4 linked regions of the Homo sapiens genome follow. The protein of the gene in region 1 purifies or fractionates together with the protein of each later gene. This does not show direct contact. Each region holds a gene or a part of one and is shown in the gene's direction. Other genes may lie near its edges.

Region 1 (4,317 bases):
AAGGGTTTTTTAAATCCTTTACTGTTACAGTAAAACTACAGAAAGCAAGAGATAAAGAAACATAAGCGGTCTTGAAAACAGAAGAGTAACGGAAAACAACTATTCATACAAAACTTTTAGCAAAGTTAAAACAACGTTAAATTTCTAATTAATAAAAACACTACAGTGAGTAGAGGATTTTTGCCTTTAAAGACGTGTACAAAGTTTATAGAGAACCAGAAAATAAGTCCTTCTAAGACAAGACAGGTAACCACATAGAGCCAAGAGGATGAATAATGACATCATGTACAGTCCTGCCTTCCTCCATAGTCTGCTGGGTTCAGCTGTGTTGGTGAATTCAGTGGTTCTTGTCCGATGGTGCGAAACTCAAGTGCTGGGGGAAATTATGTATGACCCATAATAATGTCAAAATTCTGCTGATATCATTCCTCTATTTAACAATCGTGTATAAACTAATTCTCATCAAAGAAATATGTATCATAGAACATACTGTACACGTGGAGAGAATTAAAATACACAGTAGCATACGTTGGGAGAATTAGTGGGAAAGGGTTTTTAAAATCCTTTACTGTTCAAAAGGAGGGTAAAAATATCAACTACAATTGAATATTTAGAAAGTAAAGAAATGCTGTAATCGCAAGGGTATTGCGATTGTTAGGTTGGGCTAATTTCTGTAATAAACAACCCCCAAAATCTCAGTGGTTATGGAATAAATGTTTCCTTCTGGCTTCGGTCACCAACTAATGCAGATGGGTGGGGCTCTATTCGGCGCAGCTACTCAGTGGTCCAGGTTCCTCCCACGTTTTGGGTCTGTCTCCCCGGGAGCCTCGGGTCCTCCCTGGGATCCCGTATCTGGCTACCGATAAGAAGAGGGAGACAGCAGGTGTGGAGGAGACTTTTTAGGAGCCATGCCTAGAAGTGGTGGATGTCTTTTATGTCCAAATTCCAATGAGCAGAACTGAGCAAATAAAAGGGAATTGGACGAATTCAGTTTTGGCTCCACCAAATAGCCTAACTGGTGACAGAAGGGGCCGGGGGAAGAAGGTGGGGGAAGAAGAATGATGAACGAATACTCCCAATCAATCAAAAAGAGGCAAGAAAATAGAAGAAATGCAAGGGTTTCCAATCCATACTACACCCCTGTCACTCTTGGGACCGCAACTTGCCCTCCCAGAGCCTCGGTTTTGTAAACAAAAAACATAAAATACTTCCTAGGGATGGTAAACTGATTCAACCAGATAACGCAGGGAAAATGCTTCGCACGCCGCCTGACACGAACTTACTGTGCCTGGCTGCTGCTGTTATTTATCACTAACACTTGCCACACCAGCTCAAACGCGCGTATTTGCGGACCAGGCGCTGAGGGTCACGTGAGCAGCTTGGGGCCGGGAGGATCCCCTAGCGCCACCCCGGCCCCGCCCGGCGCGTAGCGACGCCCACGCGCCCGGGCCGGAAGAGAGGTTGCTTAGCAGCGTGTGTTTCTCCCTTGCCTCTGCGGCGGCGGAGGCCTGGCGATGCCCAAGAACGCAGTGGTCATCCTGCGCTATGGGCCCTACAGCGCGGCAGGCCTACCGGTGGAGCACCACACCTTCCGCCTGCAGGGCCTGCAAGGTGGGCCTCCTCGCCGCGTGCGCCCCTGAGGGCCCCAGCCTCTGAGCATCCGTGCAGGTGGTGCCCTGTGCCTAGGCCTTCCTCAGACCCCCACGAAGCGCCACCTCTCCAGGAAGTCTTCCCCAGGATGATGTTGCAACCTATGGCTTCCAGGGCTGGGCTAAAAGAGTGGGAAGGCTCTTCTATCCAAGAGTGAGCTGTGGGCCCACCCAGTGCCCAGCAAATTACAGAAATTACCTCCATAGAAAAAATTACATAACCCTGCTTTAAGAATTGGGAAACTGAGGATCAAGAATATTAAGTGACTTTCACAACTCAAATGGCTGGGAAGTAGCGTTGCTGGTATTCCATCTCTTAATCGTTCATGCAGCAGACTTTTATTAAGCACGCAGTGTGTGTTGGACACCCTTCCAGGGACTGAGGACACACTGTTAAACAGTGATGAATGTCCTTGAAGTAATCTCCTTGTTAACTGCTAAATGACAGCTGTGCCTAAGCTCTGACTGAGGCTAGGTGGTGCCATGGGAGCTAACCACAGTGGGACCTGTGACTAGCCATAATGGGAGGGGAGAGGGAGAGGTCTGGAAAGGCTCATTTAAGTGGAGCCTTAAATGAGCCCACATTTAAGTAGACCTTTAAAGAATGAGTAGAAACTAACCAGGTAAAGAGAGGAATGCCTTCCAGGCAGAGGGACTAATAATATAGGCAATGGCTGGAGGCATTCAATAAATGATGTATTAATATTTGTTAAACTGATGGGGGATGAGGCTGGAGAGGTAATCAGGCCAGATCCTGCAGTGCCGCAGATAAGTTTTAGGCAGGGGATGAAGCTGTTGCTGCTCTGAGGAGAACAGATTAGAGGGGGCAAGAGTGGAAACAAGGAAGACAAGTCTGTTGGGGTGGTCCAGGGCTGAGATGAGAGTAGCTTGGACCATAAAGGAGACCATGGATCAAAGTGAAAGCAATGGTACTTCCTGAGAGGATGGAGGTGGGAGGTAAGGGTAAAAAGAATGTTATCCGGATCTAATCAGTGTCTGACTTGAAACAGTGCTGATGGATGGATGTACTGTCCACTAAAATCAAAGACACCAAAGATGGACCAAAATTTGGAGGAATATGTGGAATCGTTCCAAAGGAACAGTCTATTTTGGTCATACAGATAGTCCCCAACTTAGACTTCTTGACTTTAGCATGGGTTTATTGGGAGGTAACCCTATCCTAAGTTGAGGCACATCTGAACCTACAATGGTTCCACTTAACGATTTTTCCACTTTATGATGGGCTTATCCAGGTATTAAGCCCACTTTCCACTTACAGTGGGCTCATTGGGACCTAGCCCCATCATAAGTCAAGGAGCATCTGAATTAAGCTTCATGTGCTTTCGGCTACCTAGACAGAGGTGCTGAATCAGCTCTGTTGTTCTGGAGTTCAGAGAAAAAGTCTGAAATGGAGATAGAAAGATGTGAGTCATTGACTTGGAGAGAACATATAGAATGAGATGAGAGCCCAGGAATGACCATTGATGAACTCCCATCCTATGACCCAAACTAAGAGTCTTCCAGGCAAAATACCCTGAAGCCTAAGGACACAAAAATTAGTTTTAGCTGAGCAATCAGGGAAAGCCTCCTGGAAGAGATGGCATTTGAGTTTGAGTTTGAAGGATGGGTAGGATTTCAATCAGCAGAGGAAGTTACTTTCTGTGAGAGAACAGTTGATAGAGAAATTTCTGTTGCAAATACCTCCATGTTTGTATTTGTCTATTGGGATTGCCAAAACAAAATACCATAGACTATGGGACTTAAACAATAGAAATATATTTTTTCAGTCTAAAGGCTAAAAGTCCCTGATCAAGGTCTGGCAAGGTCAGCTTCTGGTGAGGGCTCTGGGCGCTCTTCCTGGCTTGCTGACAGCCACCTTCTCTTTTGTCCTCACCTGGTGGGATTATATGGGGAGAGCGGGGAGCAAGCTCACTGGTGTCTCTTCTTATAAGAAGAAAGACACTAATCCTATCAGATTGGGTCCTCATCCTTATAACCTCATTTAACCTTAATTACCTCTTTAAGCACCTGTAGTCACATTGGGAGTTAGGGCTTCCATATATGAAGTTGGGGGAAGGGGGGCAACAATTCAATTCCTAGCAGTGTTGCATGGTGATGTTTAAAATGTTTTGTAGTTTTGGCTAAGAAGACAGCCTAAATAAGTGACTTTTCTCTTCCTCCCCCTCTGATGAGCCACACCTACCCACCCTCACCTCATAATCTACCTTTAGTTTATGTTCACTGTCTCTAAAAATAACGTGGGTAAAACATATATTTAAAATGTTGCCATTTTAACCATGTTAAGCATACAATTCAGTGACATTAATTATCTTTACAATGTTGTGGAACCATCACTATTCTCTCTTTTTAAAATTTTTCAACACCCCAGACAGAAACTGTATTCCTTAAGCAACAACACCCTATCCCTCTGTGTCCAGAATTTATTCCTTCTGGTGGGTTCATGGTCTCGCTGACTTCAAGAATGAAGCCAGGGACCTCGCGGTGAGTGTTACAGCTCTTAAAGGTGGTGCATCCAGAGTTGTTTGTTCCTCCTGGTGGGCTCGTGGTCTCGCTGACTTCAGGAATGAAGTTGCAGACCCTTGCAGTGAGTGTTACAGCTCTTAAAGGTGGTGCAGACCCAAAGTGAGCAGCAGCAAGATTTATTATG
Region 2 (3,603 bases), on another chromosome or scaffold:
TATTACTCGAGTTCATTTCTTTCCTGTCTCACTCTCAAGGCCAATATGGTTTACTTCCTGAAGTTCTGCCTAACCAAACTACTGAGATTTTATTTCCTTTGGAGGAGATTATGAGAGGATGTGTTTTTAATATCTAGTCCTTTCATTTTAGTGCAATCTTAAAGAAAAGGTACTGAGGATAAGCAGGAGAGAAGGCAGTCTCAGGCTTTAAACTCTAAACTGTTCTATAATCTCCCCCATTGCTTGTAAGGTGTACACATGTATACATTTTAAAACAATAGTTATACACATTACGATCTAGAGACAAGAAATCTTAAGTAATTATGTCCATTTTTGGGGGGCATGGGGAAGGACTTTAGAGAACTGTTGAGACCGTCAGATACGTGTTTTAACCTAAACCCAATCACCAAATTGTTCTTGAAGAGCAGCACTTTAATTTCAAAATCAAACACAAAATTTTACTGTCTGCTCAAGACCTGAAAAGGTAGGAAACATGACCAGTGGGAGATTTAAAGTAGAGATGGGGTTTCACCATGCTGGTCAGGCTGGTCTCAGGAGTTCGAGACCAGCCTGGCCAAACCTATCTCTACTAAAAATACAAAAATTAGCCAGGTGTGGTGGTGGGCACCTGTAATCCCAGCTACTCGGGAGGCTGAGACAGGAAAATTGCTCGAACCTGGGCGGTAGAGGTTGCAGTGAACCGACATCGCGCCACTGCACTCCAGCCTGGACAATAAAGTGAGATTGTGTCTCAAACAAACAAACAAAAAATTGATATAAAAAAGCCAGGTATAGTGGCTTATGCCTATAATCCCAGTTACTTCGGAGGCTAAGGGAGGAGGATTGCTTGAGCCAGGGAGTTAGAGAGGCTGAACTATGATTGTGCCACTGTACTCCAGCCTGGACAACAGAATGAGGTGCCATCTCTAATTCATGAATTAATTAAAAAGTGATTTAAAATATGTTTCTTTGTTATGGAATTTTAAAATTATAGAATTTAAAAAAATAACCTGAGACCTACAGATTAACATTTATCAATGAACTTGGGAAGATCAAGAGTGAAAATAACTGTGCTATGTGGGCTGATGAGAAATTTGATTATATAATGAGGACTGGCAAGGAAGTTCATGGATACTGGGTTCTGAAACCATATGGATATCACAAGCCAAAAATGACTGTGGAAAGAAGAATTTTATCTTTGAAGCAGCTTGTATTGACTCAGTTGATTTTAACAGACAGATCGTAGGTTACTCCTCTGTTTTAGATAAGAAATCTGAGGAAGAAGAGTAGATGCAGTGGTCTGTGTGCCAGAATCATCATGTGGCATTTGCTGGGTTTATCACAGAGATGCTTCCTTCTTCACCCCATTAGGGGAAGGTCACCTGTTTTGGAGATGGAGATAGTGATTGAGGAAGAGCGTAGGAGGCAGTCAGGAGAATTAACTGTCAGATCTGGCTCTGCTCACGGATTGCCAACTCCCCTTGGTAAATATTTAGAAAATGCCATAGTGTGTTTCCCTCTGTTGCTGCGTGTATTTCTTAATTCACAGCCAAGTGATCCACATTCTTCCATTTTCAGCCAGCCTCAGCTGAATATCAAACCATCAGGGGATCCCTAGCCTTTATAGCTCACGTAGTCTTAGAGGTGGTCATAGACAGAAAATGCTTCCTTAATGAATTGTCTGGCTAGCTTATCAAATTCCCAGACCACCTTTCATTTTTCTCTTTCCTTTTCCTGGTTGCAGGAAATATTACAAAGCCCTCTTCTTCCTACCTCAGCAAGCCCTTCTCAGGCTTTGCCATAATGTTTTATTTCCACATCATACCTGTGCAGACCTGGCTGAGGGTAGAATTACAAGGGCAATTAAAACTCAGCATATATCATGTGAGCAGTGGGGGCAAAAGTGGGCTTCCTTTCTTTCATTTGAATGTTATAAATTTAGCAAGTGAAAAGGCACAGGGCTGAAAAAAAAATAGGCTTTGCATTGAACCAGGCTCAGATCATCCAGGATATTTATGAAGAGACTAACGGCACCTTGATAGCTAAAGAACAATAATTGCTTCGAATTATAGTCAATTTAGGAGTTTCCACCATTGTGAAAAGGAGAAGAAACTTGAATAATTCCGAAAATGAATACTTTGAAAATATTTTCCATTTGTACCAGACTTAAATATGGGCGTGTCTCACTTGAGAATGTATAGCAATTCAAATAAAACAAAGCATACTTTAAAGGCATAAATTATGTGGACCAGAAAGAAGTCTGTAACCTTATTCTGTCCCTCTTTTGAGTCCCAGCCTGTTTCTAGAAGAACCCTAGGAGTGGTCAATTAGCTTCATCTTCCAGTATATTTCCAGAAGGGTGGAAAAGCAAGAAAAGGCCTTTCATAATACTGACTTCGAGTCATAAGTCATAGAGAGTTAGAGGTAGAAAGGCCCGAGAGAGAATTGAGGTGTATTCAAAAAGAGCAGACATTGGGTGTCTACCACGTGTCTTACACTGTTATGTGCTGAAGACACACAAAGAGATCAGATGGAGAATCACTGATCTGGTGCGAAAATGGCCTTGCAAACAAGCAGTGATTCAACAGGATGCCTGAGAGAGAGGGTGTACAGGAGGAAACATCTCATTCAGGTTGGGGAATGAGAAGACCTTTGAAAGTGCCTAGGATTTCTATAATGGAAGAAGGGAGGATGAGGGGGCCTGCGAGTGGGGCTTTAGGAAATTGCCCAGCACAGACAATAAAGCATGATTAGGTTAGGGGATGAAGTGTAGTTCCACATGGCAGAAGTGTGACCAGAAAGGTGGTTGGGGTTCAGCCTGTGAAGAAGTTTGAGCCACTGGAAGTTTTTAAGTCATAAAGGGGTGTGATGAAATCTTTGTTGACAAAGCTCACCAGTGGCAGTGAAGAGAAAGTGAATTAGATCCCAGCCAGTACAAGATGATGATCACAGATAACTATAGTCCACTCAATTTTCAGCATGCCTTTGTCTACACATCATCTTATTTTATCTTATGATGAGCATGTGAAGGGAAGATCTGATTATTCCTGGTTTCCAGTTACAAAACAGGATTAGAAATGTACATTTATATACTCAATGTCCCTCTAGTAGTTTATTCCAAAACCTGACTTTGACCCAGTTGCCTAGTTCTGAGGCTGGGGCTGTTTCCAGGTCTTCTCAGTGGAGTAATTGAATATTCTGGGCCTTCTGGTTGAGACCGCGGTTGCTTTTTTTCTTCAGCAGAATATTCCACATAAGTTCATTGGTTCTGGAGAGAAGACACTTGTTAATGGTATTACCCTTTACCATAGCCACAGAACCTCAAGAATGGCCCTCCAGAGTATGCACAGATGCTGTTCCAAAGCATGAATTAATGGATTCTCAGTAGCATGCCATAGATAAATGAAGGGTTCATCTGCCCGTTAATTGATGTTTTGGGTTTTTCATTCCTTTACCCCAAATTTACTGGGCATTATTGTGCTTATGCTTCATTTTGGACTTCAGCAGCCTCTTTTTGTCCAGTGATCTTGAGGGCCTTGATTTGTATGTCAGTCTTCAACAAATATTTACTGAGTTCTCATTTAATTTGCCAGACATGCTGTA
Region 3 (3,603 bases), on another chromosome or scaffold:
ATCATAAACTCCTGGGCTCAAATGATCCTCCTGCCTCATCCTCTTGAGTAGCTAGGACTACAGGTGCATGGCACCACACCTGGCTTATTTATTTATTTATGTATTTATTATTTTTATTTTTTGAGATGGAATCTCGCTCTGTTGCCCAGGCTGGAGTGCAGTGGCGCGATCTCAGCTCACGGCAAGCTCCGCCTCCCAGGTTCACACCATTCTCCTGCCTCAGCCTTCCGAGTAGCTGGGATTACAGGCACGGGCCACCACGTCTGGCTAATTTTTTGTATTTTTAATAGAGACAGGGTTTCACTGTGTTAGCCAGGATGGTCTCGATCTCCTGACCTCGTGATCCTCCTGCCTCGGCCTCCCAAAGTGCTGGGATTACAGGCGTGAGCCACTGCGCCTGGGGTTTTTTTTTTTTTTTTTTTTTTAATTTTTAGTAGAGATGGGGTCTTGCTATGTTTCCCAAGCTGGTCTCAAACGCCTGAGCGCAAGTGATCCTCCTGCCTGGGCCTCCCAAAATGTAGGTATTACAAGAGTGAGCTGCTGTACCTGGCCCCCATCCATTTACTTTCAACCAATTTGTGTCTGTCTCTGGGAGACTCTACTTCACTGGGTCTTGCCATTTTATCTGGATTGACAATCTCTGCCTTTTAATTGGTGTACTAGTCCATTATATCTAATTATTGATATCATTGGGTTTAAGTCTACATGTTTCCTTGTATTCCTTTGGTTTTTTTGTTGTTCTTTTGCTCCTTTCCTGCCTTATTTTGAAATAATTGGATTTTTTAAAGTATTGGCCTATTAGCCGGTAGCTTTTTATTTTTTATTTATTTTTATTTTTTTTTAAATAAGAGACAGGATCTCACTCTATCACCCAGGCTGGAGTGTGGTGGCTTTATCACAGGTCACTGCAACCTTGAACTCAGGGGTTCAAGGGATCCTTCCACTTCAGCCACCCCAGAATTTGGGACTACAGGTGTGCACTGCCACAGCCAGCTAATTTTTAATTTTTTTTTGTAGAGCTAGTCTCTGACTGTGTTGCCCAGGCTGGTCTCAAACTCCTGGCCTCAAGTGATCTACCCACCTCAGCCTCCCAAAGTTCTGGGATTACAGTCACCTTTTATGGCCAACAATTAACTCCTCATTGTTATTATTATTATTAGTGGTTTCTTTCAGCATATCTTTTATTTGTATTTGTGATTTGTTGTTATTTTTGCTTTAAACAGTCAGTTGTCTTTAAGGAAAGGTATGTTTTTAAAAAACTACTTCACTGAATATAATTCACGTACCATAAAATTCACACATTTAAAGTGTACGTTTCAATGGCTTTTAGTATATTCTCAGAGATGTACATATTACCCCACAAAGATACCTCTCACCACTTAGCCGTCACACTCCTCAACTCCCCCCTCCCATAGCACTAGGCAACCAGTTATCTACTTTCTGACTATGTAGATTTTCCTATTCTGGACCTTTCATATAAATGGAATCATACAGTATGTGGTTCTCTGGACTGGCTTCTTTTACATAGTGTAATATTTTCTAGGTTCATCCATGTTGTAGCATGTATGAGTACAACATTTCTTTTTATTGCTGAATATTATTCCATTGTATGGCTATACTACATTTTATCCATTCATCAGTTGAAGAACATTTGAGTCATTTCTACTTTTTGGCTGTTATGAATAATGCTGCTGTGAACATTCATGTACAAGTTTTCGTATGGACAAATGTTTTTGTTTCTCTCATGTATATATTTAGGAGTAGAATTATTGGATCATATGGTAACTCTTTGTTTAGTTTGTTTTCCAATGTGGCTGTACCATCTTATAGCAGTGAATGAGGGCTCTAGTCTCTCTATGTAGTTGCCAATGCTTGTTATAGTTGTCTTTTGATTATAGCCATTCTAGTGGGTATGAAGTGGTGAAATATAGTCTCTTATTTTCACCTATTTACTATCTTTGATATTGCCCTTCTTCCTTTGGATCTGATTTTATAGTCATATTGATTTCCATCTGCCTAAAGAACATTCTTTAGCATTTCTTTTTTTTTTTGAGACGGAGTCTTGCTCTGTCGCCCAGGCTGGAGTACAATGGCACAATCTCGGCTCACTGCAGCCTCCGCCTCCCAGGTTCAAGCGATTCTCCTGCCTCAGCCTCTTGAGTAACTGGGATTACAGGTGTGTGCCACCATGCCCGGCTAATTTTTGTATTTTCAGTAGAGATGGAGTTTCACCATGTTGGCCAGGCTGGCCTTGAACTCCTGACCTCAGGTGATTCGCCTGCCTCAGCCTCTCAAAGTGCTGAGATTACAGGCGTGAGCCACTGCGCCCAGCTCCTTAGCATTTCTTATAGTGTAGGTGTGTTGGTGAAGAATATACTCTGATTTTGTTTATAAGAAAGTGTTTTTATTTCACCCTAGTGTTTGAAGGATATTTTTGCTGAATATAGAATTATGGGTTGGCATTTCTTTGACCATACAAAAGATATCATTTCATTGTTCTCTAGTGTTTCTGTTGAGAAGTTAATTTTACTCATATCTCTTTCTCCCTGTTCTTTAGATTATATATTTTCTATTGATCTATCTTCAGGTTCACTGTTGCCTGTCTGCCATTTCTAATCTCATCCAATAGATTTTTCATTTCTTATTGTATTGTTTTGGTCGTAGAGTTTTCATTTTTATCTTTTTTATAGTTTTCATTTCTCTGATATTTCCCATCTATATACTCATCAAGAATATATTTTTCTTTAGTTCTTTGAATGCATTTTCCTTTAATTTTTTGAACATATTTTCCATTAATTCCTTTAAAATATTTATGATAGTCAATCTTAAGGTTTCTGTCTGTAAGAGTTAACTCCTTGGCTATCTCAGGGTTGGTTTCTTTTTTGTTTGTGTTTTTGAGAGAGCCTCACTCTGTTGCCCATGCTGGAGTGCAGTGGCATGATCTTGGCTCACTGCAACCTCCACCTCTTAGGTTCAAGTGATTCTCCTGCATCAGCCTCCCAAGTAGCTGGGATTACAGGTGCCTGCTACCATGCCTGGCTAATTTTTGTATTTTTAGTAGAGATGGGGTTTTGCCCTGTTGGCCAGGCTGGTCCCAAGCTCTTGACCTCAAGTGATCTGCGTGCCTCGGCCTCCCAAAGTGCGGGGATTACAGGTGTGAGCCATCACGCCCAGCCATCTCAGGGTTGGTTTCTATTGACTGCTTTTATTTGACTGTAGGTTACAGTTTTCTGCTTATTTATTTTTGCATGTTTACTACTTTTTAATTGTAGGTGGTATATTATAGAGATTCTGGATTTTGTATTTTTGTGAAAAGTGTTGATTTTAAAAATTCTTGCAGGTAGTTCAGTTACTGGCAGATAACTTTGAACTTGTGTAGGCTTGGTTTTACTCTTTGCTAGAATGATATGTGGAGAACCCATTGTTTCCTTACTTTAGTGTAACTCAACCTCACATTTTTAATCCCTTCAAAAACTTGTTGGGGCTTGATTTTAGTCTTTGTTAGGGTGCACCTAGAATATGCCTTATTCTAGGATGTGGTTCTTACTCTTAGTTGAGGCATTTTTGATATCTCAGCTGGATATCTGAGATGTTAATAAGGTG
Region 4 (3,603 bases), on another chromosome or scaffold:
AGATTTACTTTCTCCTGAGATCTCTTTTTTGTCTTGCAGATGGCTGCCTTCTCTGTGTCTTCCCTCTGTGTGTGTGTCCTCATCTCCTCCTCTTACAAGAACGCCAGTCATGTTGGATTAGGGCCCACCCTAATGACTTCATCTTACGTTAATTACCTCTTTAACTTCATTATCCTGTCTCCAGGTGCAGTCACATTTGAGGTTTTGGGGTTAGGGCTTCAACATATTAATTTTGTGTGTTTTGTGCGGGCACAGTTCAGCCTATAACAACATCCTTATTCTTCAGTTCATCTGCTCTACCTTTACCTCCTCCAGTGACTTTCCTAAGACTGTTTGATTTCCATGTATCAATTCACTTGTCTTTACCTCAGATTATTCTGTCTACTCATTACAGTAATCCAGAGAAGAATTTTTCTTCTTTTATCTTTCAAACATGAACAGATTTTCTTTTTATTTATTTATTTATTTATTTATTGATCATTCTTGGGTGTTTCTCGCAGAGGGGGATTTGGCAGGGTCACAGGACAATAGTGGAGGGAAGGTCAGCAGATAAACAAGTGAACAAAGGTCTCTGGTTTTCCTAGGCAGAGGACCCTGCGGCCTTCCGCAGTGTTTGTGTCCCTGGGTACTTGAGATTAGGGAGTGGTGATGACTCTGAACGAGCATGCTGCCTTCAAGCGTCTGTTTAACAAAGCACATCTTGCACCGCCCTTAATCCATTTAACCCTGAGTGGACACAGCACATGTTTCAGAGAGCACAGGGTTGGGGGTAAGGTCACAGATCAACAGGATCCCAAGGCAGAAGAATTTTTCTTAGTACAGAACAAAATTAAAAGTCTCCCATGTCTACCTCTTTCTACACAGACACGGCAACCATCCGATTTCTCAATCTTTTCCCCACCTTTCCCCCCTTTCTATTCCACAAAACCACCATTGTCATCATGGCCCATTCTCAATGAGCTGTTGGGTACACCTCCCAGACGGGGTGGTGGCCGGGCAGAGGGGCTCCTCACTTCCCAGTAGGGGCGGCCGGGCAGAGGCGCCCCTCACCTCCTGGATGGGGCGGCTGGCCGGGCGGGGGGCTGACCCCCCCAACCTCCCTCCCAGACGGGGCGGCTGGCCGGGCCGAGGAGCTCCTCACTTCCCAGTAGGGGCGGCCGGGCAGAGGCGCCCCTCACCTCCTGGACGGGGCGGCTGGCCGGGCGGGGGGCTGACCCCCCCACCTCCCTCCCGGAGGGGGTGGCTGGCCGGGCGGTGGGGCTGACCCCCCCACCTCCCTCCTGGACGGGGCGGCTGGCTGGGCGGGGGGCTGACCCCCCTACCTCCCTCCCGGACGGGGCGGCTGGCTGGGCAGAGGGGCTCCTCACTTCCCAGTAGGGGCGGCCGGGCAGAGGCGCCCCTCACCTCCCGGATGGGGCGGCTGGCCGGGCGGGGGGCTGACCCCCCCCACCTCCCTCCCGGACGGGGCGGCTGGCCAGGCGGGGGGCTGACCCCCCCCACCTCCCTCCCGGACGGGGCGGCTGGCCGGGCAGAGGGGCTCCTCACTTCCCAGTAGGGGCGGCCGGGCAGAGGCGCCCCTCACCTCCCAGATGGGGCGCTGGCCGGGCGGGGGGCTGACCCCCCAACCTCCCGGACGGGGCGGCTGGCTGGGCAGGGGGCTGACCCCCCCACCTCCCTCCCGGACGGGGCGGCTGGCCAGGCAGAGGGGCTCCTCACTTCCCAGTAGGGGCGGCCGGGCAGAGGCGCCCCTCGCCTCCCGGACGGGGCGGCTGGCCGGGCGGGGGGCTGATCCCCCCACCTCCCTCCCGGACGGGGCGGCTGGCCAGGCGGGGGGCTGACCCCCCCATCTCCCTCCTGGACGGGGTGGCTGCCCGGCAGAGATGCTCCTCACTTCCCAGACGGGGTGGCTGCCGGGCGGAGGGGCTCCTCACTTCTCAGACGGGGCGGCTGCTGGGCGGAGGGGCTCCTCACTTCTCAGACAGGGCGGTTGCCAGGCAGAGGGTCTCCTCACTTCTCAGATGGTGCGGCCGGGCAGAGACGCTCCTCACATCCCGGACGGGGCGACAGGGCAGAGGCGCTCCCCACATCTCAGATGATGGGCGGCCGGGCAGAGACGCTCCTCACTTCCTAGATGGGATGGCGGCCGGGAAGAGGCGCTCCTCACTTCCTAGATGGGATGGCGGCTGGGCAGAGACGCTCCTCACTTTCCAGACTGGGCAGCCAGGCAGAGGGGCTCCTCACATCCCAGACGATGGGCGGCCAGGCAGAGACGCTCCTCACTTCCCAGACGGGGTGGGGCCGGGCAGAGGCTGCAATCTCGGCACTTTGGGAGGCCAAGGCAGGCTGCTGGGAGGTGGATGTTGTAGCAAGTCGAGATCACGCCACTGCACTCCAGCCTGGGCACCATTGAGCAATGAGTGAAGGAGACTCCGTCTGCAATCCCGGCACCTCGGGAGGCCGAGGCTGGCAGATCACTCGCGGTTAGGAGCTGGAGACCAGCCCGGCCAACACAGCGAAACCCCGTCTCCACCCAAAAAATACGAAAACCAGTCAGGCGTGGCGGCGCGCGCCTGCAATCGCAGGCACTCGGCAGGCTGAGGCAGGAGAATCAGGCAGGGAGGTTGCAGTGAGCCGAGATGGCAGCAGTACAGTCCAGCTTCGGCTCGGCATCAGAGGGAGACCGTGGAAAGAGGGGAGAGGGGAGAGGGAGAGCCAGATTTTCTTTTTTATAAGGATTTTTGATTTAGATAAGGATGTGGTACCACTTGCAGAACTAGGGAAAGGAATTAATGTTGGGGAAAAAAGTTACCCCAGCCAGGTGCGATGGTGCACGCCTGTAATCCCAGCACTTTAGGAGGCCAAGGTGGGCAGATCACTTGAGCCTAGGAGTTCAAGACCAGCTTGGGCAACATGCCCAATGTGGTGAAACCCCGTCTCTACAAAAAATACAAAAATTAGCTGGGTATGGTGGCGTGTGCTTGTAGTCCTAGCTACTCGGGTGGCTGAGGTGGGAGGATCACCTGAGCCTGGGAGGTAGAGTTGCCGTGAGCTGTGATGGCACAACTGCACTCTAGCCTGGGTGACAGAGCCTCAAAAAAAAAAAAAAAGTTATGCCATCTTTTTCCATTTTTGGCCTCCGTATACAGTTGTTTATCCCAGTCTGGTTACTCTTGCCTTTGATATCTGTCACAGATTTCTTGCCTCTTCTCTGTTCTTACTGCCGCCCCTGAATGTGGGACCTCTTTTACCTCATTGATCTACCTGCCCACATTCCTCCTCTGCTGCTCTGCTTTCTTCCTTATGTATTCCACTTAGAATCTGTATTAGTCCATTCTCATGCTGCTGTAAAGAACTGCCCCAGACTGAGTAATTCATAAAGAAAAGAGGTTTAATTTACTCACAGGTCCACAGAGATGGGGAGGCCTCTGGAAACTTAGAATTATGGTGGAAGGGGTAGCAGGCACATTCTTCTCCACATAGTGGCAGGAAGGAGGAGAATGAGAGCCAAGCAAAGGGGAAGCCCCTTACCATCGGCTGTCATGAGAACTCACTATCACGAGAACAGCGTGAGGGTAACTGCTTCCATGATTAAATTACCTCCCA

What was found. The genes of interacting proteins can lie anywhere in the genome.
Region 2: the proteins of C10orf53 (region 1) and SPTB purify together in Homo sapiens (affinity purification with mass spectrometry; one large-scale study listed by BioGRID and IntAct). This does not show direct contact.
Region 3: the proteins of C10orf53 (region 1) and MNAT1 purify together in Homo sapiens (affinity purification with mass spectrometry; one large-scale study listed by BioGRID and IntAct). This does not show direct contact.
Region 4: the proteins of C10orf53 (region 1) and SPECC1L purify together in Homo sapiens (affinity purification with mass spectrometry; one large-scale study listed by BioGRID and IntAct). This does not show direct contact.

What each region holds. Positions count from the first base shown.
Region 1 is NC_000010.11:49,678,184-49,682,500, forward strand, and holds the start of C10orf53 (UPF0728 protein C10orf53), read left to right. Parts: upstream 1-1,467; 5' UTR 1,468-1,514; coding exon 1,515-1,611; intron 1,612-4,317.
Region 2 is NC_000014.9:64,873,310-64,876,912, reverse strand, and holds part of SPTB (spectrin beta chain, erythrocytic), read left to right. Parts: intron 1-3,603.
Region 3 is NC_000014.9:60,741,256-60,744,858, forward strand, and holds part of MNAT1 (CDK-activating kinase assembly factor MAT1), read left to right. Parts: intron 1-3,603.
Region 4 is NC_000022.11:24,315,826-24,319,428, forward strand, and holds part of SPECC1L (cytospin-A), read left to right. Parts: intron 1-3,603. UniProt on the Homo sapiens protein: Involved in cytokinesis and spindle organization. May play a role in actin cytoskeleton organization and microtubule stabilization and hence required for proper cell adhesion and migration.